Linked DNA regions of Homo sapiens. The protein of the gene in region 2 purifies or fractionates together with the protein of the main gene of each other region. This does not show direct contact. Each region holds a gene or a part of one and is shown on either strand. Other genes may lie near its edges.

The links.
Region 1: the proteins of ACAP2 (region 2) and RAB11FIP3 purify together in Homo sapiens (affinity purification with western blotting, with the first as the bait; one study listed by BioGRID). This does not show direct contact.

What each region holds. Positions count from the first base shown.
Region 1 is NC_000016.10:428,366-432,148, reverse strand, and holds part of RAB11FIP3 (rab11 family-interacting protein 3), read right to left. Parts: intron 1-3,783. UniProt on the Homo sapiens protein: Downstream effector molecule for Rab11 GTPase which is involved in endocytic trafficking, cytokinesis and intracellular ciliogenesis by participating in membrane delivery. Recruited by Rab11 to endosomes where it links Rab11 to dynein motor complex.
Region 2 is NC_000003.12:195,299,764-195,303,829, forward strand, and holds part of ACAP2 (arf-GAP with coiled-coil, ANK repeat and PH domain-containing protein 2), read right to left. Parts: intron 2,412-4,066; coding exon 2,203-2,411; intron 1,882-2,202; coding exon 1,812-1,881; intron 1-1,811. UniProt on the Homo sapiens protein: GTPase-activating protein (GAP) for ADP ribosylation factor 6 (ARF6). Doesn't show GAP activity for RAB35.

The DNA.
Region 1 (3,783 bases), on a different chromosome or scaffold from region 2:
GGCCTCCCAAAGTGTTGGGATGACAGGTGTGAGTTACCGCGCCAGGCCAGTTTCTTTTAAAACAATGAACATCTATAAAAATAATTTAGCTTCACTGGGCGCCATAGCTCATGCCTATCATCCCAGCACTTTGGGAGGCCGAGGTGGGCGGATCATGCGGTCAGGAGATCAAGACCATACTGGCTAACACGGTGAAACCTCATCTCTAATAAAAATACAAAAAAATTAGCCGGGAGGGGTGGCGGGCGCCTGTAGTCCCAGCTACTCAGGAGGCTGAGGCAGGAGAATGGCATAAACCCGGGAGGCGGAGCTTGCAGCGAGCCAAGATCACGCCACTGCACTCCAGCCTGGGTGACAGAGCGAGACTCCATCTCAAAAAAAAAAAAAAATTTAGCTTCTACCCCAATATGATCTCAATTGTGTACTTTTATAGACAGTCACCTGTGTGTCTATGTCTGTGTTAAAAAAGGTCTGGGCCAGGTGCGGTGGCTCACATCTGTAATCCCAACACTTTGGGAGGCTGAGGCAGGTGGATCACTTGAGGTCTGGTGTTCGAGACCAGCCTAGTCAACACGGCGAAACCCCGTCTCTACTAAAAATATAAAAATTAGCCAGGCGTTGCACGCCTGTAGTCCAAGCTACTCAGGAGACTCAGGCAAGACAATCGCTTGAACCCACGTGGTGGAGGTTGCAGTGAACTGAGATTGTGCCACTGCACTCCAGCATGGGCAAGAGAGCAAGACTCTATTTCAAAAAAAAAAAAAAAGTCTGAAAAGAAATGTAGTAAAATAATGGGAATGTTATTTTTCTCAGGATAGTGGGATTATTGGTCATTTTCTGTTTTATACAACCCAAGCTTCATTTGCCTTTCAGCAATTCAGTCAGCATGTAGACCCAGAATACATACACTCACCTGCTCACACACATACATAATATGCCACTTACACACAAATATCCCACTCCCACATACACACATCCCTGATCCTGCAGACACATGCTCCCACACATCTCACCGCACACACATATTACACACACACACACCAGCTCACATATGTAACTGCTCACACACACACATGCTCACTCTCATTCACACACACTTTCACTCAAATTCAAGGCTAAGAGACTGGAAATGATACAGGGCAAATAAAAGGCGATGCCAGGCTGGGCGCTACGGCTCATGCCTGCAATCCCAGAACTTTGAGAGGCTGAGGCCCGAGGACGGTCGCTTGAGCCTGGGAGTTCAATAATATGCCTGGGCAGTATCACTATACTATACTTCATCTCTACAAAAATAATTTTTAAAAATGTTTGTATTTTTAGTAGAGACGGGGTTTCACCGTCTCCTGACCTCATGATCTGCCCGCCTCAGCCTCCCAAAATGCTGGGATTACAGGCGTGAGCCACTGCACCCAGCCAATTTTTTTAAATTAGCGGAGCATGGTCATGCCTGCCTATAGTCCCAGCTACTCAGGAGGCTAAGATGAGAGGACTGCTTGAGCCCAGGAGGTGGAGGTTGCAGTGAGCTGAGATCTTGCCACTGCACTTCAGACTGGGTGACAGAGTGAGATCCTGTCTCAAAACAAACGAACAAAAAGGTGCAGTCAAATGTCCCTAGGAACTTCCTACTGCCACCATTAGCGGTGCAGGAATAAAAAAACGTAGGGAGATCTGAGCATCGACACTTCCTTCGGCAGCCTATTTCTGCAAGTACTGAAGACAGACAATGCCTACCAAGGTTACTGAAGGACATTCTCTGAAAAGAATCAGTGGCTATTAAAACGCAACTGCTTAAGTGACTGTAAAAATAACATGTAAATTACAGTTATAATCTTTAAAAACAAAACAAAATTAAAGTAATCCTTTCTCACAACACTCTTAGAATTTATTTTACAATCTCTGCTTCATGATAGGTGGCAGTAAATACAAAAGCATCAGTCCTCTCAGTATGAAGGGGTCATGTCAATCTCCAGAGATGGTTGAAGCCTTAAAAATCACCTATTCCAACTTCATACCTAATTCCTGGACACATCTGACTATAAATTCCTGTTTCAAAAAAATATAACCAGAAAGCTCCACTTGCTCCTTTCATGTGCTGATTTCTGCTAACACAACACTGTGTTATATTACACTACACCTGATCTATCACCAGATGACGTAATTAGATCCAAACACACCATGACATTGCTAAAGAAACAGGGACACAAAAGCCATCTGTATTATAAACAGGAGCTGCTTCTATTAAAAATTCAGATAATCCATTTAAATAATTTAAAATGCTACCTTCATAAACAGATTACATAGAAGATACTCAATATGCTACCTCTGAAAATTTGATAAAAATTAAGATACTTGGCCGGGCACAGTGGCTCATGCCTGTAATCCCAGCACTTTGGGAGGCCGAGGCGGGTGGATCACCTGAGGTCAAGAGTTCAAGACCAGCCTGGCCAACATGGCAAAACCGTCTCTACTAAAAATACAAAAAATAGCCAGGTGTGGTGACGGGCACCGGTAATCCCAGCTACTCGGGAGGCTGAAGCAGGAGAATCGCTTGAACCCGGGAGGCAGAGGTTGCAGTGAGCCGAGATCACACCATTGCACTCCAGCCTGGGCGACAGAGCAGGCGAGACTCCATCTCAAAAAAAAAAAAAAATTAAGATAATCTAGTTGTTATCATCAAGGACAGTAATGTGACTGGACTAAGAGTCTCTCATGTGCTCAATATTTTGAAATCTCAAGGTAGAAAGTACAAAAACTTATGACCTTTATTGCTGTTATCCAGTTAATCTGAACTGTTCCCTAGCGTTTTTAAAAAAATCATTAATGTCTTTAAAAGAATCGGTATCTTTTGGAAATATATACTGAAGCATTTATGGAAGAAATGATATAATGTCAGGAACCCACTTCAAAAATCATCTGGGGGTAGTGAGTGGTGAGTTTACAGATGAACCAAGACTGCTAAAACTGAGCAATGGCTACAGGGTTACATAACATGAAAATCAACCTTTCTTTACCCTGTAAATTATCTGTTGCCAAACAGTAACTTAGCTTTAAGAAATCAAGAGCTCTCCTCCATCCCAGGAAGCCGGCCCAAGTCCAGGCACTCAGATCACACCCAACATTGCTTCTTCCTAAGCCGTCTAGAAGAACAGACAAGGAGTAATACCACAGGAGATCCCTTCCACTTCCCCATCCTCACCAAATCCCAAGTCATCCAGCCCTTGCCCCCAACCTTCGAATTTCATCAAGAGCTCTTGGAATTCAGAGTGAAGAATTTTGTCTCATTTCTACTTTGTGATGACAAGAAAGCTCAGCCCCAAATAGCAACACAAAGTTTTTCCCATTGTGATCATTAAGGGAGGTTATGACAAAAGATGTTTCTCAAATAAAAAGAATTGTATGAAAGTCAGTAAGATATTATCACAATAGGGATATTGTGAGCCACCACATCTAAGAAGAGGCATCTAAGGTCTAAGGGCCAAAAGACCTAGTTCTACTCCTGTGAGACCTTGGGAGAGCTATCTGACCTTTCTGGGTTTCCAGTTTCTTACCTGTAAAGTGGGGATGAATCCTGCTTACCTACTATCTCAGAGAACTGTGGTATGATCCAGTGGAAACATCCTGAGCCTCACAGAAGTTCTCTATCAAGAGTTGGGTTATGGTAACAAGGAGCAAATGTGGTACTCTCCTAACTTCTTTGCTGTACTGAAGCAAGAGTATGTTTGGGAGAAGAGACAGCGCAGTAGCCAACAGCAACCAAGGGAGCTCAAGGTGCTCTCCAGCCCA
Region 2 (4,066 bases):
GGAGGTGGAGCTTGCAGTGAGTCAAGATCGCGCCACTGCACTCCAGCTTGGGCGACACAGCGAGACTCCCTCTCAAAAAAAAGAGAGAATTTGGAAAAAATATCAAGAGTTAGGCACACATTTTCTACTCTACACTAAATAAATTCACAATATACTACGATTAAAATTTGAAAAATATTCTTATAAAAATGAGTGAATTTCAAAAAAAATTAAAAACATTCTATTTTAAAAAGAATGGGAATTAGTATCTACTTTCCGTCTTTCTTTTTTCTTTTTTTTTCTTTTTTTTTTTTTTTTTTTTGAGACACAGTCTTCCTCTGTTGCCCAGGCCGGAGTGCAGTGGTGCGATCTCGGCTCACTGCAACCTCTGCCTCCTGGATTCAAGCAATTCTCCTGCCTCAGCCTCTCGAGTAGCTGGGACTACAGGTGTGTGCCACCACGCCTGGCTAATTTTTGTATTTTTAATAGAGACAGTTTCACCATGTTGGCGAGGCTGGTTTCAAACTCCTGACCTCAAGTGATCTGCCCACCTTGGCCTCCCAAAGTGCTGGGATTACAGGCATGAGCCACCGCACCCGGCCACAGGATTTCAGACAGAAACAAATGAGCATATACTCCAACCCTTAAACTCATCTATTTTCTACAATATGGTAAACTAGATGGCAGGAATTAAAAGGATTATACTACTATTTCGAATTTTGTAAATCTTATCAGAAACCGGTAGTGGTCTAAAATTATTTATGACATTTTCATAGATATAAATTCTTAGACACAGGGAAAAAAGGAAGACTTGGTATGATGACTCCTAACCTGACAAATATAAATTTGCAAATCATCGTATGCTGAAACAACCCAATGGTGTCAAAAGCTTTTCTAATCCATTATGAAGTTTAGTATAGCAATAGACCTCTTATATATTTAAAAAGAATCTAATCAGAAAAGATTAAAATTAAGGCATAGAATCTGAACTGGGCCAAGGGTAGTGGCTCACACCTGTAGTCCCAGCACTTTGGGAGGCCGAGGTAGATGGACTGCTTGAGCCCAGGAGTACAAGGCCAGTCTGGGCAACATGGTGAAACCATGTCTCTACGAAAAATACAAAAATTAGCCAGGCATGGTGGCATGCATCTGTGGTGTCAATTGCTTGGGGGGTCTGCAGCACGAGGATTCTTTGAGCCAAGGAAGTCCCGGCTGCAGTAAGCTGTGATGGTGCCACTACACAGCCTGCACAAGGGAGCGAAGACCTTGTCTCAAGGAAAACAAGAACAGTGAACTAACCTGGAGTTAAGAGTGCTATATATAAATATAGCCTTTTTTTTTTCTTTTTTTCTTTTTCTTTTTTGAGACGGAGTCTCTCTGTTACCCAGGCTGGAGTGCAGTGGCGCGATCTCGGCTCACTGCAAGCTCTGCCTCCCGGGTTCACGCCATTCTCCTGCCTCAGCCTCCTGAGTAGCTAGGACTACAGGCACCCGCCACCACGCCTGGCTAATTTTTTGTATTTTTTAGTAGAGACGGGGTTTCACCGTGTTAGCCAGGATGGTCTCGATCTCCTGACCTCATGATCCGCCCGCCTCGGCTTCCTAAAGTGCTGGGATTACAGGCGTGAGCCACCGCACCCAGCCAAATGTAGCCATTTTTAAAACTTACAATGAAAACACCAGATTTGCCAAAATAGCCTCAGATGTGTTTCAATACAATTTAGCTAGCATACATTGGTAGCATGAAGAACTCACACATTTGTAAACCAAGATTCTAAAATCTTCACTTTCATGTGAAAATATGAAATATTTTAAAGCAAAAATTTTTTTTACCTTTAAAAGTTCTGGCTCCCAGGTGTCTAAAGTTAAAGATCGTACTTTTGAAAAATGAACCCCAAGGCTCCTAAGTGGAAAAAAGAAGACTGCATTACTATCAAGTCTCTGTTTGCGTATTTGCGCAAGTTCTGTTTTAACGTGACACAGGCTCTAATAAAGCCCTCGGCATACACATATAGGCACAGATCTTCTGTTTAATAATGAATGATGAACCAAAGTCCTCAACAGCTTTTACAAACCAGGATTTTAACTACTTCTTAAAAGGTACAAAGATACAAACTGGTGATTAAATTAGGGAAGTGGAAAAGGGCAACTAACAAGTGAAACAACCATTTCTATCTGTGTTTATCCAAAAGAAGAAATTCTCATCCTGGGCAGGCCTACCCACCGGTGAATTCCGGAGCACTCGATACACAAGGTGATGCCCAGGTTGATGCTGGCCCACCGTGGATCTGCCAGGCCACAGTCACAACAGCTGGCATTGCCAGGGATACACTGGACCCGCTGAAGCGCACTTTCTCCTTTCAATAATTTCTCTTTGGACTCATTTCCAGAATCTAGGCTTCCTGTGGATGGAGATGATTTCTTATCCAGCTTCTAAAAGAATTAAGAATTACTTGTTTTTAAAAAAAAAAAAGATTGAAATACTTTGTTGCACACTACATGCTCCAAACTAAAGCTTCCAATCAATAAATTAAAGGCCTGTTACAGGCATAAGCAAGGCAATAGTCTAGCTAGAAATTCAAGGATAAAAAGATGTAGGTTCTTCCATCAGTGAGCTTTTATTCCAGTGGGGAGAAACGTGTAAACATTTAAAATTATATATAATAAATGACACAATGAACATATGTACAAAAGATGAAGACAGAAAGGGAACACTAGTCTAACATGCAGGGTGGAGACAGAGGAAATAGGTAAGGGATTATTCAAACTCAAGAATGAAATAAATATTATTGTTTTATACCACACTTTTCCAAGGCGTTCAATAAACTTTAAGCTAGTCATTGTTTTTTTTTTCAGACCTCTCAGGGATAAGGCAAGTTAATTACTGCAGTGAGTAACTAGGAAAGGTATGAGCTTATATAAATAGTAAAGAAGAGATCAACTACAAAATTATAACTACAGAGTGAATCAAATATAGAACATACAATGTTTAAAACTTCAAGGGATATTAGGTAAAAGAGAAGAAAAGCAAAAGATGGCTGATTAACAAAAAGTTAATTTTTTGGCCGAGAGCGGTGTCACCCCTGTAATCCCAGCACTTTAGGAAGCTGAAGCGGGAGGACCACTTGGGTCCAGGTGTTCAAGATCAGCCTGGGCAACAGAGCAAGAGCCTGTCTCTAAAAAAGAATATGTCTGGGCACAATGGCTCATGTCTGTAATCCCAACACTTTGGGAGGCTGAGGCGGGTGGATCACTTTAGGCCAGGAGTTCAAGACCAGCCTGGCCAACACAGTGAAACCCTGTCTCTACTAAAAATACAAAAAAATTAGCTGGGCGTGGTGGCGCACACCTGTGATCCCAGCTACTCAGGAGGCTGAGACATGAGAATAGCTTAAACCCAGGAAACGGAGGTTGCAGTGAGCCAAGATCATGTTGACAAGAGTGAGACTCCAACCTGGGTGACAGAGTGAGACTCCGTCATATGAGCGTAAATACATACATACATACAAACATACAAATTAGCTAGGCATGGTGATGCACACCTGTGGTCCCAGCTACTCAGAAGGCTGAGGCATGAGAATTGCTTAAACCCGGGAGGGGGCTATTGTAGTAAGCCAAGATCATGCCACCGCACTCCAGCCTGGGTGACAGAGTGAGACTCCATCATATGTACATAAATACATACATACATACAAATTAGCTAGGCATGGTGGTGCACACCTGTGGTCCCAGCTACTCAGAAGGCTGAGGCATGAGAATCACTTAAACCCAGGAGGCAGAGGTTGCAGTGAGCCAAGATCATGACACCGTACTCCAGCCTGGGTGACAGAGTGAGACTCCATCATATGTACATAAATACATACATACATACAAACAAATAAGCTAGACATGGTGGTAAGCACCTGTGGTCCCAGCTACTCAGGAGACTGAGGTAGGAGGACTGCTTGAGCCCAGGAGGTCAAGGCTGCAGTGAACTATGATCACACCACTGCATTCCAGCCTGGGAAACAGGGCAAGACTCTGTCTCCCCGCCATCCTGCTACATGGCCATAATGACCGAATACAAAGATGTGGTACTTAGATCCTAA